2 separate regions of the Homo sapiens genome follow, and region 2 is linked to region 1. The links come from fine-mapping of genetic effects on gene expression. Tissue or cell type: whole blood. Region 1 holds a variant in brackets; the other region holds the start of a gene. All regions are shown on one strand. Distances are from middle to middle.

Evidence for each region. PIP is the estimated chance that this variant, and not a neighbour inherited with it, causes the effect.
Region 2: LDAF1 starts here. The variant in region 1 is fine-mapped to the expression of LDAF1 in whole blood (TOPMed, PIP above 0.99).

Annotation. Positions count from the first base shown.
Region 1 is chr16:21,342,139-21,350,243 of GRCh38, forward strand. It overlaps the pseudogene SNX29P1. Among named protein-coding and RNA genes, the nearest start is that of CRYM, 68 kb to the left of the region's middle. RefSeq lists enhancers at 5,156-5,715, 6,868-7,675, 7,676-8,105 and a silencer at 8,036-8,105. The variant G/A (reference allele first, on the strand shown) is at 4,403.
Region 2 is chr16:21,154,865-21,162,969 of GRCh38, forward strand. LDAF1 (lipid droplet assembly factor 1) reads left to right here and starts at 3,810. Exons shown (of 5, transcript NM_001301771.2): 1 at 3,810-3,882; 2 at 6,221-6,414. The coding sequence starts at 6,319. It also overlaps a transcript of DNAH3 not described here. RefSeq lists silencers at 3,690-3,819, 3,870-4,049 and enhancers at 4,307-4,807, 4,942-5,091.

The DNA.
Region 1 (8,105 bases):
TTAATACTATACAAAAGCTCTTCTGTCAAGCTTCAGCCCCTCTTTGTGTTGGTATTTTTGCAAATTACATCTTTATATTGTGTGCCTATTAACATGTTTATCATTATTTTATGCATTTATCTTTTAAATCATATAGAAGGAAAAAGAAACCATTATCATAACACTGGCTTTTATATCTGCCTATGTAGTTACCTTCACTGGAGCTCTTTATTTTTTCATGTGACTTCATGTTACCATCTAATGTCCTTTCATTCAGCTGAAAGAACTATATTATAGGGCAGGTGTATTAGCAAATTTTCTTAGCTTTTGCTAATCTGGCAATTTCTAATATCTCCTAATTTTTTTTTTTTTTTTTTTTTTTTGAGACAGAGTCTTGCTATGTTGCTGAGGCTGGAGTACAGTGGCCTTTCTACTACAATGAGGAATTCTGCCTTGGGACTTGAGAGAGGTAGCAGTCCTAGGGTGTGGGTTAGGGGCATTCACTGAAATACCATGTAGCAGCGTAACCTGTGGCTATTGAAATGTGGCTGTAGGAATATTGCTCATGACTTGACTTCTGCTCTTGAATATTCATAGCTGGGCAGCAGAGAGCGATGTGAGGACTATACTTATGGCATGATACCATTTTTATTGCAAATATATAGGTATATGTGGAAGTTGATTAAAAATTTATGTGTGATCATTTTTACAGTGCCTATCTCTAGGTAGTAGGATAATTTTTATTTTTCCCTTTGTCTTTTATTGTAGTTTCTCAGTTATTTCCAATAAGCACTGCATTAATTTTATAGTTGTAAAAAATGTTGTTTAAAAGTCAGGGAGCCCAGGCGTGGTGGCTCATGCCTGTAATCCCAGCACTTTGGGAGGCTGAGGCAAACTGATCACCTGAGGTCAGCAGTTCGAGATCAGCCTGGACAACATGGTGAAACCCCGTCTCTACTAAAAATACAAAACTTAGCCAGGTGTGGTGGCACATGCCTCTAATCCCAGCTACTTGGGAGGCTGAGGCAGGAGAATTGCTTGAATCCAGGAGGTAGAGGTTGCAGTGAGCTGAGATTATGCCACCGCACTGTAGCCTGGGTGACAGAGCGAGACTATATCTCAAAAAAAAAAAAAAAAAAAAAAAAAGCCGGGTGCTGTGGCTCACATGTGTAATCCCAGCACTTTGGGAGGCCAAGGTGGGCAGATCAAGAGGTCAGGAGATCGAGACCATCCTGGCTAACACGGTAAAACCCCATCTCTACTAAAAATGTCAAAAAAATTAGCCGGGCGTGATGGCGGGCGCCTGTAGTCCCAGCTACTCGGGGGGCTGAGGCAGGAGAATGGCGTGAACCTGGGAGGCGGAGCTTACAGTGAGCCTAGATCACGCCACTGCACTCCAGCCTGGGCTACAGAGCAAGACTCTGTCTCAAAAAAAAAAAAAAAAAAAAAAAAAAAAGTCAAGGAGAGGAGATTTCTGTCAGGCACAATTTCTGTCAGGCACAGTAGCAGGAACCAGATTGAATTCTCTTGCCATTGAAATCTGGACAAAAATCTGTGAATCGGCTGTCCTAAGACATTAGACAAGCAACAGCACAGGACCGTGATCCTGAGAGAAGGAACATGAGAGGAGGGGACAGGGAGATGCCAGGCAGAGATAGCTACATCACTGCATGGAGGAGATGGGTTGGAGTTGAGAGAGGCTGAGGCAGCAGAAAGTTGTGGAATCAAGTTCTTAAGAGCAGAGGGTTACACGGGGACCTTCTTGGGTGTTTGGGGGATTCCAAGGCAGGCATGAGCTCAATGGCTCCTAAGCTCACCCCAGGCTGGGTGGTGGTTGGATTCCCACTAGCCAGAGTCCTCAGTGATCAGTCACTGCACTAGCTGGCCATGCCTACTGGCAGGCTAAACTGTCCCTAGAATAAAGGCAGAGCTTAAGAGAGCCTGAGAAAGATCACATTAAATCACAAGTAACAACACTTTTAAAAGAAAGACAGCAAAACCTAGACACCCAACAAAGTAAAATTCACAATCTCCGGTATCTAGTCCAGAGTACCAGGAAGCAGGAGATTGTGACCTATGATCAGAAAATCAGTAAATAGGAAGGGACCCTGTCTGGAATTAACTGACCAGGACATTGAAATCTATTAAAATTACATTCAGGAATTTAAAGGAAAAAAGGAACATAGCAAGGAGAGAAATAGAAGACATAAAAAAGAACCGTATGGAACTCCTAGACTCGAAGAGCGAGGAGAGTTGCTGCCAGGCTTGCCTTCCATGTGTTTCGGGTACGTGCATTTGGTAAGGTTAGCGGTCTGCTTCATCCAATGGGGAATCAAAACCCAAGTTAAATGACTTGCCAGGACCTTAGTGAGCAAGAAGCTGCTGTTATATAACCTGACGACTGCCAGATATGTTGGCCTGCGTCATTAGGATACCAGAATCTTGAAAGGGTAAATTTAATGAGCTGAAATTTCATAGCTGGAAATGTAGACTCAGAACATTTGCACAGTAGTAGACGGTGGTGTAACATTGTGTGAAGCCGAGTGTTTTGCTGGCTGCGCTGGTGTGCAGGAGCTTCCTCGGAGCCCTTGTGGTTGGAAGGTGCACTCTGTAGCACACCCATTCTTAGCTTGTCTACCCTGTGGCCCCAGTGGAGCGTTTTGGAGCTGCTGGGAGGAGCTGTCCAGGGACAGACTGTCATGGTGGCAGTGGGCTGGAAACTGTTGTCTTTGGGGAAACGGTTAGAAATTGAGATTTCACAAGGTTTGATAATGGTTAGATGCCTGGAGAAGCAGCACATAAGTGAAGAATTAGGCTGGTTTTGTAGGTGCTAAGAGGGTCAGTGGAGGAACAGCAGCTCCGCGGAGGTGGGCTTCAGCCCAGCTGGGATTTTGTCATTTTCTTCCTGGGGTGCACAAGGCTTGCTCGAGGACCTGTGGTGGTGAGTGCTCTGTAACTGCTCAGGCGGACAGGAAACCGCCGTGGAGCACGCAGCACTGCCTGGCGGTGGTTGCTTTGGGACATGACCCATCACTGGAGGTGCTCAGGTGGAGTCAGGGTCTTTGGCTGGAGCCAAGCTCTCCACATGCAGCATGCAGGTGGGCATGTTGAATCTCCTTTGAATCTCATGAATTTGAGATTCTGATTTAGTGTAGCTAGGCAATTTCTAGCATATTGCAAGTATCAACATTCTGTTATGTGGCTGGGCACAGTGGCTTACACCTATAATCCCAGCATTTTGGGAGGCCAAGGCAGGCGGATCATTTGAGGTCAGGAGTTCAAAACCAGCCTGGCCAACCTGGTGAAATCCCTTCTCTACAAAAAAATACAAAAAAAAAATTAGCCCAGCATGATGGTGGGTGCCTGTAATCCCAGCTACTTGGAAGGCTGAGGCAGGAGAATCGCTTGAACTTGAGAGGCGGAAGTTGCAGTGAGCCAAGGTCACACCACTACACTCCAGCCTGGGTGACAGAGCAAGACTCTGTCTCAAAAAAAAAAAAAAACCAACATTTTATTGTTACTTTAAAAAATGTATTCAGTGGAATCTATGTACTATGGCAATTTAATACCTACCATTAGCTATTGGTAAAAAATACATGGAAAGCTTTTCTCTCCCCTTCCCCTCTCCGCCCCTCCCCTTCCCCCTCTCCGCCCCTCCCCCTCCCCCTCTCCGCCCCTCCCCCTCCCCTCCCTCCTCCCCTCCCCCCTCCTTCCTTCCTCTCTCTTGCCCTCCCCTCTCTTGCCCCTCCCCGTCCCTTCCCCCGCTCACTCTGTTGCCTGGAGCTAAGTGCCATGGTGCCATCTCAGCTCACTGTAATCGCCTACTCCCAGGTTCAAGTGATTCTCCTACTTCAGCCTCCCAAGTAGTTGGGACTACAGATGCGTGCCGCCACACCTGGCTAATTTTTGTATTTTTAGTAGAGACAGGGTTCACCATGTTGGTCAAGCTGGTCTCGCACTCCTGACCTGAAGTGATCTTGCCTGCCTTGGCCTCCCAAAGTACTGGGATTACAAGCGTGAGCCACCACGCCTGGCCCGCTTCTCTTTAATAATCAGAAATTTTATGTCTTTCATTTTTCTCCTTTCATTCATATCAACATTCTACTTCTCTCACAGAATTTCATCTTTCTGCTTCCCTCCCCTGTCCCCTCGAGATGGAGTCTTGCTCTGTTGCCCAGGCTGGAGTGTAGTGGTGCCATTTTGACTCATTACAACCTCCGCCTCCCAGGTTTAAGTGATTCTCCTGCCTCAGCCTCCTGAGTGCCTGGGATTACAGACCCCCACCACCACACCTGTCTAATTTTTGTATTTTTAATAGAGATGGGGTTTCACCATGTTGGCCAGGCTGGTCTTGAACTCGTGACCTCAGGTGATCTGGCTGCCTTGGCCTCACAAAGTGCTGGGATTACAGGTGTGAGCCACC[G/A]TGCCCAGACTACATTTTTATGCTTAAAAGCTTTTTAAAATTAGTCATTATAATTCTCTGCAACAAAACTACGTGTATACAATGAAAATTAAAGTTTTTCTGTGCTCTTAATATTCTAAGAGTTTAAGAAAATTATGATTGAGACATCATTACAGTGAAAATTAATACACAGTACATCAAAGCAAATGTATCTCATTTTGATTAAACACAGCAAGTAAAATTTGTTGGAAATGTATCTTTAAGTGCGTGGATGAGACTTTTGCTCTATTAGTTTAATTACCCATGGACAAATATTGCCAGCCTGAAACAGCTTTTAATGTCCACTTTAAGAACTTCATTCATTTAAATAAGTTGGGACTAAAAGGGGTTTTGTCATAGCAGCATCACGCCACTCTCAGGCCCTTCTGCATTCCATGTCGGAAACCTCAGTTCCTAAGACTCACTCGTAGTGATCTCTGCAGAAGAGTGGAGATGCAGTGAGCCGAGGAAAAATGAAGCATTTCCTCTTCTCTGCTGTGGGAGTCGAGAGTGAGGGACGGGGGTGCACACATGCTGCACAAGGCAATGCCTAAGAAACTTCTCGTTCACCCCGTTCACACCTGTTGCCCCCACAGAGCCGATGATGAGCACCCCACCTCCTGCCAGAGAGCTCCTGCAGCCACAGCCGCAGCCGCAGGCCCTGCACTACGCGCTGGCCAACGTGCAGCAGGTGCAGATCCACCAGATCGGAGAAGACGGACAGGTGCAAGTAGTACGTACCCTCTCCACCTCGCACCTTGGGAAAGGGGGCTGCGGGGTGGGCCACGGCAGGGCCCTGGCGGCTTCCACCAGTTCCGCTGTGTTTCGGGAGCACAGTGATAGCTTGGGAGGAGGCACAAGGTTCCCATTTAAAGTAGAGGTCATCATGGCCATGAGCTCTTAACATTTCACAGGTGGGGGCGGCTGCTGCAGAGCCTAGGGATTGAAGCACATGGTGGGGTGGGGCGTTCAGTCAGCTCACCTCAGTCCTGCCAGCAGGCAGGCGGGCAGTCAGCTCCAAGGGTCAGGCTGTGCAGTGGTCCCTGCCCCAGCTCGTGCTCCTGGGAAGCATCGGAAATATTTCTCAGCTCAGAAGTGCAGGCGTCCTCTTACTGAGGGAAAGAGTAATTTCCTTCTAGGATCAGTGGCAAAAGCTTGAGGTCATTGTTCCCATGCAGCGTTTCCCTTGGAGTTACTCAGCACACCCAGGTTGGGCGGGCACTGTCCCAGCAGCAAGTCAATGTCCTGCCTTGCCCATGCGGAGTTCTCTGTTGGGGTTTTGTGACCCAAGCTGTGGTCAGTCTGATGCGCCTAGGGGCTCGCTCCCGGGTGAAGTCCCTCTACAAACACCTCCTGGATTCTGTGGCACGAGAGTAGGGGGCGGCTGAGAAGAAGACTTTTCTGGAAGCTTTGCTGAGTGACTAGAAATTTTACATGCACCACTAGACATCGCCTATGTTTTTAGTGGCACCAGCCCCCTTGGGCCCTCTGAAGACAGGTCATCGTGTGCCTCCGTGTTACCAGGGCTTTCTCCTGGAAACAAGGTCCTCCACTGTTGAGAGTGGGTCGTGGCTCTCATCTCAGTGTGGCTTCAGCGTGCTGTCTGGAAGAGGGAAGGCTTCCAGAAAATTCTGGGGCTTTTAGAGGGGGCATTACCCTTCCTCTTCCAAAGGAGATGAGACAGTTATGAATAGTGAATCTTATTTAATAAGCTTATTAATTTATTTGACATTCACAATGGCAGTTCCTCTCATCTTGTTAGTAAGAAGTTCTTTGAAAGCGTTCCAGAGTAGATAACTTTGTCATAAGGCTTACATAGAACATTCTACAGGAGTTTAAGATCCATTTCGACTAAGAGAGAATTTCAAATAAGATAAGTATTCATTTCATTTACAGGTTTATAGGAAATATTTGTCTGCCCATATGTATAAACAGTGGATTCTTTGATTTTTTTTGAATCACATTTGTTAGTGTTTCCTCAAACTGTTTAAATAGTCATATGAGTGTTTCTTTGATTTGAAAAATGTTGCCTGCCCTGTTGTGAGTGTAGGCACGCAAACAGCTCCCCTGCTTCAGCCATACACTGCTTGCGTAGCCTCCCAGCATCCCCAGAGAGCTGAACGTATCATTTGAAAAGAGGTGTCATTGTGATTTTCTATTTCCCCTCTTTTCTGTGTGTCATGCACATTTTAAAATTTACTTGTTTAGTAACATTTAAAGATGTATATATCTTTCCTGGGACCTATTGCTCCTTTGTGAAGTACTGGAACATGTTCTGTGTTACACAGTACCCCCCCTTACCCATGCTTCCACTTTCCTAGGTTTTAATTACCCATAGTCAACTGTGATCTGAAAATATTAGATGAGAAACTCCAGAAATAAACAATTTGTAAGTTTCAGATTGCATACTCTTCTGGGTAGTAGCATGATGAAGTCTGATCGTCCTGCTGTGTCCAGCCTGGGACGTGAGTCATTCCTTTGTCCAGCATGTCCAAGCTGTGTGGCACGTATGGGCAGGAAAAAGCATAGCATATACGGGGTTCCGCACCATCCACGGTTTCTGACGTCCACGTGGTGGGGGGAGGGGGCGCTTCTTGAAACCCTCATGGATGAGGGGGACTACTGTGAACCAAAAGCTTAATTTAAAGAGGTGACCACAGACTATATTGCACTATTCAGGATTTAGTTATCTTTTTGAATTGTAAACAGATAATCAAGAACAAACATTCCGGAAGATGTTTCTTGTTTCCTTTGCTTTTTATTTTCTTCTGATGCTTCTTGGTGTCTTTTCTTGCTGCGGATCCCACAGGGACACCTCCACATCGCCAAGGTGCCGCAGGGGGAGCAAGTCCAGATCACGCAGGACAGCGAGGTGAGTCATCTCTCGCTGCAGCCCTGTCCCTGCAGGCACTGTGCCCGCATGCTCCTGACCTTCATCGGTGTCACAGTGCGAGGGCAGCAGGGAGCCCCCAGGATGGGGAACATGGGCGAGGGCTGCAGGACTCCGCTTCCAGGGTGCACATAGCAGGCCTGCAGTCTCTGTGGCCTCACTGCCTCCCCCTCCTGTCCGTTGGTCTCCACAGCTTCTGGTCTGTCTTGGCAAAGATCTCCTGGGTAGATGTTTCTGCTTCTGGCTCGAAGTGCCCTCTGAGTACCCTTCTCTCCCTGTCTGGCCCTGCCCTTCCTGCCAGGGGAGGGCCCCAGTGTGGCCGAGATGGGGTCTGCCCCTGCACAGGTGACCTGACATACCCCCTCACCTGCCATGTGGCCCCAGCTTCCTGGTGGCCTCTACGGGATTAGTGCCGATTTCATAGGATGGTGGGGAATCCCACAAGGTGATGCTGCCAGTCCTGAGAGCTGGTCATAGCCCTGACGCACCTGCCATGTCTGTGATTGTCTCAGTTTCTGGAGCTCTACCCAGCCACGCGCTCAGAAGTGCGGGCTCAGCTGCTGTTGGGGTCTGGAATGTGAAGGCGGGAGTGACAGTCTGAGTTCTTGGAAAGCCGAGGCCGGCCGGTTGCGATGCTCCGTGTTTGCGTGCCAGAGCAGGACTGTCTTCCGGGTGGCTGGTGACCATCCTTCGACTCTGGGCTGTTTCCTGCAGCACAGGCAGCAGCAGGCACAGGGCAGTAAGCAGCGCACACGTGCTGTACTGAGTGACCGTGGTGCGCTCTGGGGGATGAGG
Region 2 (8,105 bases), 190 kb before region 1:
TTGTTTGTTGTCTGACAACTTTGTGTTGGATAATTCTTAAGAAAGGATATAGGCTTCAAGTTTCTCAATCTTCTTTTTCTTTCTTTCTTTTTTTTTTTTTTTTGAGATGGAATCTTGCTCTGTTGCCCAGGCTGGAGTGCAGTGGTATGATCTCGGCTCACTGTAACCTCCACCTCCTGGGTTCAAGTGATTCTCTTGCCTCAGCCTCCCCAGTAACTGGGATTACAGGCGTGTGCTAACACACCTGGCTTATTTTTGTATTTTTAGTAGAGATGGGGTTTTGCCATGTTGGCCAGCCTGGTCTCGAACCCCTGACCTCAAGTGATCTGCCCACCTCCGCCTCCCAAAGTGCTGGGATTCAGGCATGAGCCACCATGCCCGGCCTTGTTTCTCAATTGGGCTGCCAGACAAAACAGAAGGTGCCCAGTTAAATTAGAGTTTCAGTCAAACAATTTTTCAGGTAAAAGAATGTTTTAGGGCCGGGAGCAGTGGCTCATGCCTGTAATCCCAACACTTTGGAAGGCCGAGGCAGGCGGATCACAAAGTCAGGAGTTTGAGACCAGCCTGACCAACATGGTGAAACCCTGTCTCTACTAAAAATACAAAAATTAGCTGGGCGTGGCGGCACATGCCTGTAATCCCAGCTACTCCGGAGGCTTTGGCAGGAGAATCATTTGAACCCAGGAGGTGGAGGTTGCAGTAAGCCGAGATAGCGCCACTGCACTCCAGCCTGGGAGACAGAGCAAGACTCCGTCTCAAAAAAAAAAAAAAAAAAAAAAAGTTTTAGTATAAGCATGTCCCATTCAATACATGGGCTGTACTTGTACTTGTACTAAAAAGTTACCCATTATTTACCTGAAATTCAGATTTAATTGAGTGTCGTGTGTTTTTATTTGCCAAATCTGCCAACATGGGGAGCAGAGGTCAGCAAGGTTCCAAGTTGCCCCTGCCTCTTGTTATCAAGAGTTTAGGGTCTTAATCTGTTGCTAAAAAAATTTCACACATTTCTTATTCAGAGGCTGGTATTCCTGGCAGCTCATTCCTGAGGCCTAAAATAGTTGTTTAAGCAGAGCAACAGTTTCAATCCTTGGAGGCTACTATAGCAAAGTACCAAAGTCTGGGTGGCTTATAAACAAGAGACATTTATTTCTCACTGCTCTGAAGGCTGGAAGTTCACAATCAGGGTGCCAGGGTGGTCTGGTTCCAGTGAAGGCCCCCTTCCATGTTGCAGGCTGCCAACTTCTCATTGTATCCTCACATGGTGGAAAGAGGGTAAGAGAGCTCTCTGGGAGTTATTCTTATTTTATTTTATTTTATTTTATTTTATTTTATTTTATTTATTTTATTTTATTTTATTTTATTATTTTATTTTATTTTATTTTAATGAGCCAGGGTCTCACTTTGTTGCCCAGGCTAGAGTGCAGTGGTGCAATCTCAGCTCACTGCAGCCTCCACTGCCTGGGCTCAAGAGATCCTCCTGCCTCAGCCTCCCATGTAGCTGGGACTACAGGCATGTGCCACTATGCCCGGCTAACTTTTGTATTTTTAGTAGAGAAGAGGTTTCGCCATGTTGCCCAGGCTGGTCTCGAACTCCTAGACTCAAGCAATCCACCCACCTTGGCCTCCCAAAGTGGTGGGATTATAGGTGTGAGCCACTGGGATCTCTTTTATAAGGGCACTAATCCCATTTAGGAGGGCTTCACCTTCATGACCTAATCACCTCCCAAAAACCCCATGCCTAATCCCATCACATTGGGGGTTAGGATTTTAGAGGAACAGACATTCAGTCCATTGCAGCAAGTAATTGGGAAAGCATAGGAGAGGCTGCGCGTGGATTTTTTTAACCCAACCACTGCATGTTCCTTGAGGGCCAAGTCCTGATGCTATGGAGAGATGCTAGGATCCCAGCCCTGGAGGAACACATGATGTGATGGAGGAAGCATCTATCACACAAAGACAAGCAAAACTCTGCTGGCCCAGCCAAAAATGCCAGAGGTGGAAGGAATTTGAAGATTCACAGAGACGCCCCTAGATGGCACTCTTAAACAAAAATCCCAGTGGAAACCCTAACTCAGCTTTCCAAAGCAACTTCCATTTAGGGAATGATGATTGGAAGGCTGTAATCTAAGGAAACACACACACACACACACACACACACACAATCTTTTCCTGGGTGGGGAACCCAGCATTTTGCAGCTGAACAAAGTGCATGACGCCAGACAAGATTGGCTAAAACTTAAGAATTTAGGGATTCTTGTCTGTCCTATCCCCACCATTAGCTCTTCTTTCTGCTATTGTGGAATTACAGCAGGATTCTGTGGTTTATCATATCATTGTCGTGATCATCATCATAAATCATCATCCCAAGCAAATATTTTTGAGCCCCTACTCTGTGCCTCAATAGGTGCTAAGTTCTCGACAGCCACAGCCACACTATTGCACCAGTCCTCACTACAACCCTGTGATTGCTTCTTTTTTTTTTTTTTTTTTTTTGAGACAGGGTCTCACTCTGTTGCCCAGGCTGGAGTGCAGTGTCTTCACTGCAACTTCTACTTCCCAGGTTCAAGCGATACTTCTGCCTCAGCCTCCCGAGTAGCTGGGATTACAGGTGCGCACCACCATGCCTGGCTAGTTTTTATATTTTTAGTAGAGATGGGGTTTCACCATGTTGGCCAGGCTGGTCTGGAACTCCTGGCCTCAAGTGATCTGCCCACCTCAGCCTCCCAAAGTGCTGGGATTATAGGTGTGAGCCACCGCACCCTGCCAGCTTTTTGTTATCTAAAGACTTATTTTCCAGGTTGCTATGGCCACAGGCAAAGAGGAGAGGTCGGTCAACACAGGTCCCTGTCTGGAAAGTGGCTGAGAACTGTGCAACAGCAGACCAATGGTTGGGCTTATCCCTCTCTCTAATTTATGGTTGAAGCCATGGTTCAGAGAGGTTACTTAGTCACACAGTAAGTTGCCATCATGCTCTATAGCAGTGGTTCTCACCTCGGGACGATGGGGCCTTCCAGGGGACATTTGGCAATATTTTGAGACACAACTGGAGGTGGGGGGGGGCGGTTCTTGTAACTGGCATCTAATGGGTAGAGGCTAGGATATTGCTAAACATTCTACAATCCACAGCTCAGAAACAGAATTATTCCGCCCCAAATGTCAATAGCATACTATTCAGAAACCTTACTCTATAGGGCAGATTTGGGGCCAGGGGAAACAGGGGCTCCTGCTCCGACTTGGATCCATGCAAACCGAGGAATTTGGATTGATTTATCTTGTCTCTCTCAGCCTGGACTTTTTCATGTGTAAAATGGACATCCAATCCATCTGAAAGGATCTCACTGGCTTATGACATTCGCATTTGAGCAGTCATGGTTAAAAACTTCCAGCCAGGGTGATACTTCATCACGTGTGTGTCTTGAGCGCCAGAGACGTTCCAGAGCAGCTGGTTTTAGGCATACAGGAGGGGAAACCCTGACACCCTTGGAAAACTCATTCTCGGCTGCCAGTCTGCCTGTCTTGAAGGTGGTCTGAGCTTTCTCACTCCAAGCCAGTCGTGTGGGAAGGGACACTCTCTGAGCCTCAGTTTCCTCAGCTGTCAACCTCTCAGGGCTTGTTCTAGTGGCTCCGAAAGCCAGTGGGAGCGAGCGCGCTTTGCAAAGCCTTGGGCGCCGGGCCTTGGCGCGCCTTTGCCGGATCCTTCCGGCCACGGGCGGGGCGAGCCCAGAGGAGAAGAGCCGAGGGGCGGTGCCCGGGCCAGGGGGCGGAGGCAGGCGGCTCTGGCTCCCTCTCGGGACGCTCTTTCCTTCTTCCTCTTGTTCCTCCTCCTGCCTCTCTTCGCTTCGCCTGCAAACGCGGTGGGGGCTGCTCGGCGGTCAGGAGCAGGTGAGAGCTCGGAGCTTGGGGGTGGGGGTCCGGGTGCCCCGGGTGGCTAGACCCCTCTCGCCGGGCGGGGACAGAGGAGGAGCGCGGGGGCGACGGCGTGAGCGCGCTATCGGGGTCCCACGCCCGTAGCTTTCTGCCCCGGGGTTAGTGTAAGGGGCGTCTCCTGCTTATGAGTCGCCGGGACGGGGCTGGGAGCGCACGAGGAGACACGATTCCTCCCCACCCCTAAATGCACACTCACCCCGCCACCCCCCAACACACACACACATACACACACACACTACCACTAGATTAGGTAAAATGGTAGCTAGCACCACCACACCCCGAGACTGTGCCCCTTTCTGGGGAACCTGGGGAAGACGTCGAGGCAAACCTCCCTAGGATTATTGAAAACGGGCGCCTTCCTCACCACCCAGCCCCTCTTCTCCACCGAGGTCCCCTTCCCCATCGCTGCAGAGAGATCTGCAAGTATCAAAGGGGGCTTCTTTACCCCCAAATTAATAACTAAGTACTCGACTCCCCTCTGAGTTCCCATTATTCAGTCTCTGTGCCTTCTGGGACGCGGACCCCCTCTCCACCTGCATTTCACTCCCTTCCTCCTCTCCTTGGGTCTCCCTGGCTTTTGAACGCTGAAAGGCTGGGCCCGGATGGGGAGGGGCGGCCAGTGTGAGCTCGAGGCGCCCTGTAGCTCCCATCCCCCAACCAGAGATGTGACCCCTCCTCCCAGCTTGAACTTTCGAGGTAGCCGTTTTCCCCTGGAGGTTCGGGGGTGGGAGGGCCAGGAGATTTATTTGGAGCCTTGGAAGGGGAAAGGGTTAGCTGGTGTTGGCCTGGCCCAGTCCCCCAGGCGTGAAGAAGGCGGGGCACTCCTTGGCCGCGCCGGGTTCTCGCTTTCCCTTCTCGGGAGACAGCTCCGTGCCTGGGGAGGCCCCTCCGAGGAGTGAGTGACCAGGGGGTCTGGGAATTGGTGGCCAGGTAGACGCATTTGAAGGCTGTGGCCGATGGCATTCGCCCCACGCACTCTCTCATCGGACTCCCCAAACCGGTCTGGGTGGCACTTGAGGCTCCCAGGCCAAAGGAGACCTGTAAGGGGAACTCCGCTTGTTTCTGCTTGCTGCAGAGATGAGATTATGGGAACTGAGTGCTGGGAACATCCCAAGTTCAAGACCTACGCCAGAGGCAGCTTCAAAGAGAGAATGTGGGGTGGTGGGATTAGTCCCCTCCTCAACTTTCCCCTCCAAAGGGTTTCTTGTTTTACAAAAGGGAAGTAGCAGAGGATGTCTAGCTGGGATGATTAAAATGTGCTTTAATTTGCATACTAGACCCTGTACAGCTTAGTAGTAGATAAAATTACCCCCTATATGATAAATAAATGTGAGGATCTCTCAATTAATTTTGGCCACGTGGACACAATCTTTTAAGCATTTGTACTGTAGGTCAGGTCAGTTTAAAGGGAGAAATGGAAAAGATATCTCTGTGTCCAGCCAGTTCTGGGAAATATAAAATAAGAATGATTTTTTTTTTATATTTGAAAACTCAACAAGGGTTAAAAAATATATCTAATTTAACCAATTGCCTTTATTAAAAATAAGTAAAAATTGTATGAGATTGGGACACCCCTCAAAATTCCAGGCAGTTTAGTTAGAGTATAATTACTGTGGTGAGGTCTGCCCCCGAGGTGCAGTTCTCCTTAGCAGGGATAGACTTACCCACAAGTAAGTAGATGATGATGTATGGAATGATGGAATTGGGAGCCAACCTGTACAGTAATAAAGAAGAGAAACAGGTCAAGGCTACTGTTGTACAAGGAAAGCTTTCTAGGGAGAATAAAAGGCAATGAGATTTGAAATAGTGTGTTCAGCTTTCTTGCTTTCTGTATATTTTCAGCATTTTGTCAAGCTAAAAAATAAACATAAGCTGTCAGAGATAATACTATTAACATTTTATCATCTTTTTTTAAAAGTATCATACACATCTTTTCACATCACTAAACAGTCACACTATCATTTTAATGACTGAATTTATCATTATTTAACCAATTTTCTCCTAATGGAAATACAGTTAGCTACTTTCCAATGTTTTGCTAGTCATTATATGTTATAAACAGGGATGCAATGCACAGCCTTTTAGTACATTTTGAGATACCTGTTGGATTATTTCCATCATGTTCCTGGAATATAAATTCCTGGATTGAAGTGTGTGCAATCTGAAATTGTTGTGAATATTGCCAGGTTACCCTCCGTCTGCATGCCCACCATCAAGGTATGAGGATGGTAGAAGCTCTCGTCGAACCAGATGGATGAAGACCACTAACGGCTTTTGTTTCCTCTGGTAACAGCAAGAGACAGAGCGACATGAGAGATTGGACCGCGGGCTGCACTGGAGAATTTACTGGTAGGATAATTCATCCCTAAAGAGATTGAAGTGAGCTTCAGAATGGCAAAAGAGGAGCCCCAGAGTATCTCAAGGGACTTGCAGGAACTGCAGAAGAAGCTGTCTCTGCTGATAGACTCCTTCCAGAATAACTCAAAGGTCAGTTTCCAATCACTATGTATAATGGAAAATCCCAATATAACACTAGCATAAACAAGATAGAAAGTTATTTCTTTCTCCAGTAGAAGGAATTTGGAGGTAAGTCAAGAATCTTTCTGGCTTACCGCCCTGCCATGTCTATGCTGTGACCTTCAAACTCCTTGTCTGAGATGACTGCAAGAGCATCAGCCATTGTATCCATCTTTCAGGCAACAGGATTTGAGGAGGGGGGAAGAGAGAAGTGCAAGCCACCTACAATTTAAGGAGACTTCTGGGAGTCGCACACAATACTTCCAATTACATCCCTTAAGCCAACATTGAGTCATTTGCCACTAATGGCAAATGCAATTCTTTAGCTGGATAAAGAAGTCTGTGCAACAGATATCATCCTTTTTTTGGTTTTGTTTGGTTTTGTTGTGAATTTTGCCCTATCTGTTACCCTGAAAATGAGAGACAAAAGCCTACTTCAAGATTTGAGTTCATTGTTCCACTAGGAATCCAGGTCCGATAGAAATATGATGTGAGTCACGTATGTAATTTAGAATTTTTCTAGTAGCCACATGTAAGAAGTAAAAAGAAATAGGTAAAATTAATTTTGGCTGGGCATAGTGGCTCCCGCCTGTGATCCTAGCACTTTGGGAGGCTGAGGTGGGTGGATCACTTGAGATCAGAAGTTCGAGATCAGCCTGGCGAACATGGTAAAACCCCATCTCTACTAAAATTACCAAAATGAGCAGGTGTGGTGGTAAGGCCTGTAGTCCCAGCTACTCGGGAGGCTGAGGCAGGAGAATCACTTGAACCCAGGAGGCGGAGGTTGCAGTGAGCTGAGATTGTGCCACCGCACTCCAGCCTGGGCGACAGAGCGAGATTCCGTCTCCAAAAAAAAAAAATTATTTTTAATAATGTTTTTATTCAACCTAAGATATCAAAAATATTTCAACATGTAATCATTTATACAAAATTATTAATGAAAAAAGATTCTTGAAACATTGTACCTTCTTTTTTGAACTCCCTCTTCAAAACCCCCCGTGCGCATATTTTACACTTCTAGCACATTTCAATTCGAGTTAGCCACTTTTTAGGTATTCAGTGGCCACTCAGTGGCAATGAGACTTCAGATAGCGTTATGTTTTCTTGCATATTTATCCTTATTGCTTTCTTCTATATGTCTTTCAGCATTTTGTCAGGGAAAAGAAAACAGCTTTCAGAGATAATACTGTTAACATTTTGTATGTCATTCTAGACCTTTTTTCTATGCAATATACCTATAAAAATACATATGTATATGTAACAAAATGAACTATTTTGTGGTGTATTTTTTTTTGTATTGGATAGCACAGCGGGTCTACTCGAAGAGATGCTTGTTTGCAATCTACAACAATAAATTCTGGACTTGCTCCAGAATTTATTTGGCACTCTTTGTGGATTTACCAAGCTATTTTTAAATTGGACAAGCAGCTTTCTCGCCAGCTGGCGGGGACTCTTGTTATTAAAAGTTAGCTCAGTAAGAAGGGTCCTCCTGCCTGTTCCACATTTACAGCTGATTCTCATTAACCATGGTAGTTACGTTCTATAAAGTTACTGCAGACACTGAATTAGCACATACCAAACCATCGCTCCTAGGGGAAATACAGGATTCAGTTGCTGTGAGCCTCCTGTTCACAACATTTTTGTCAGCTGATCAGTACATA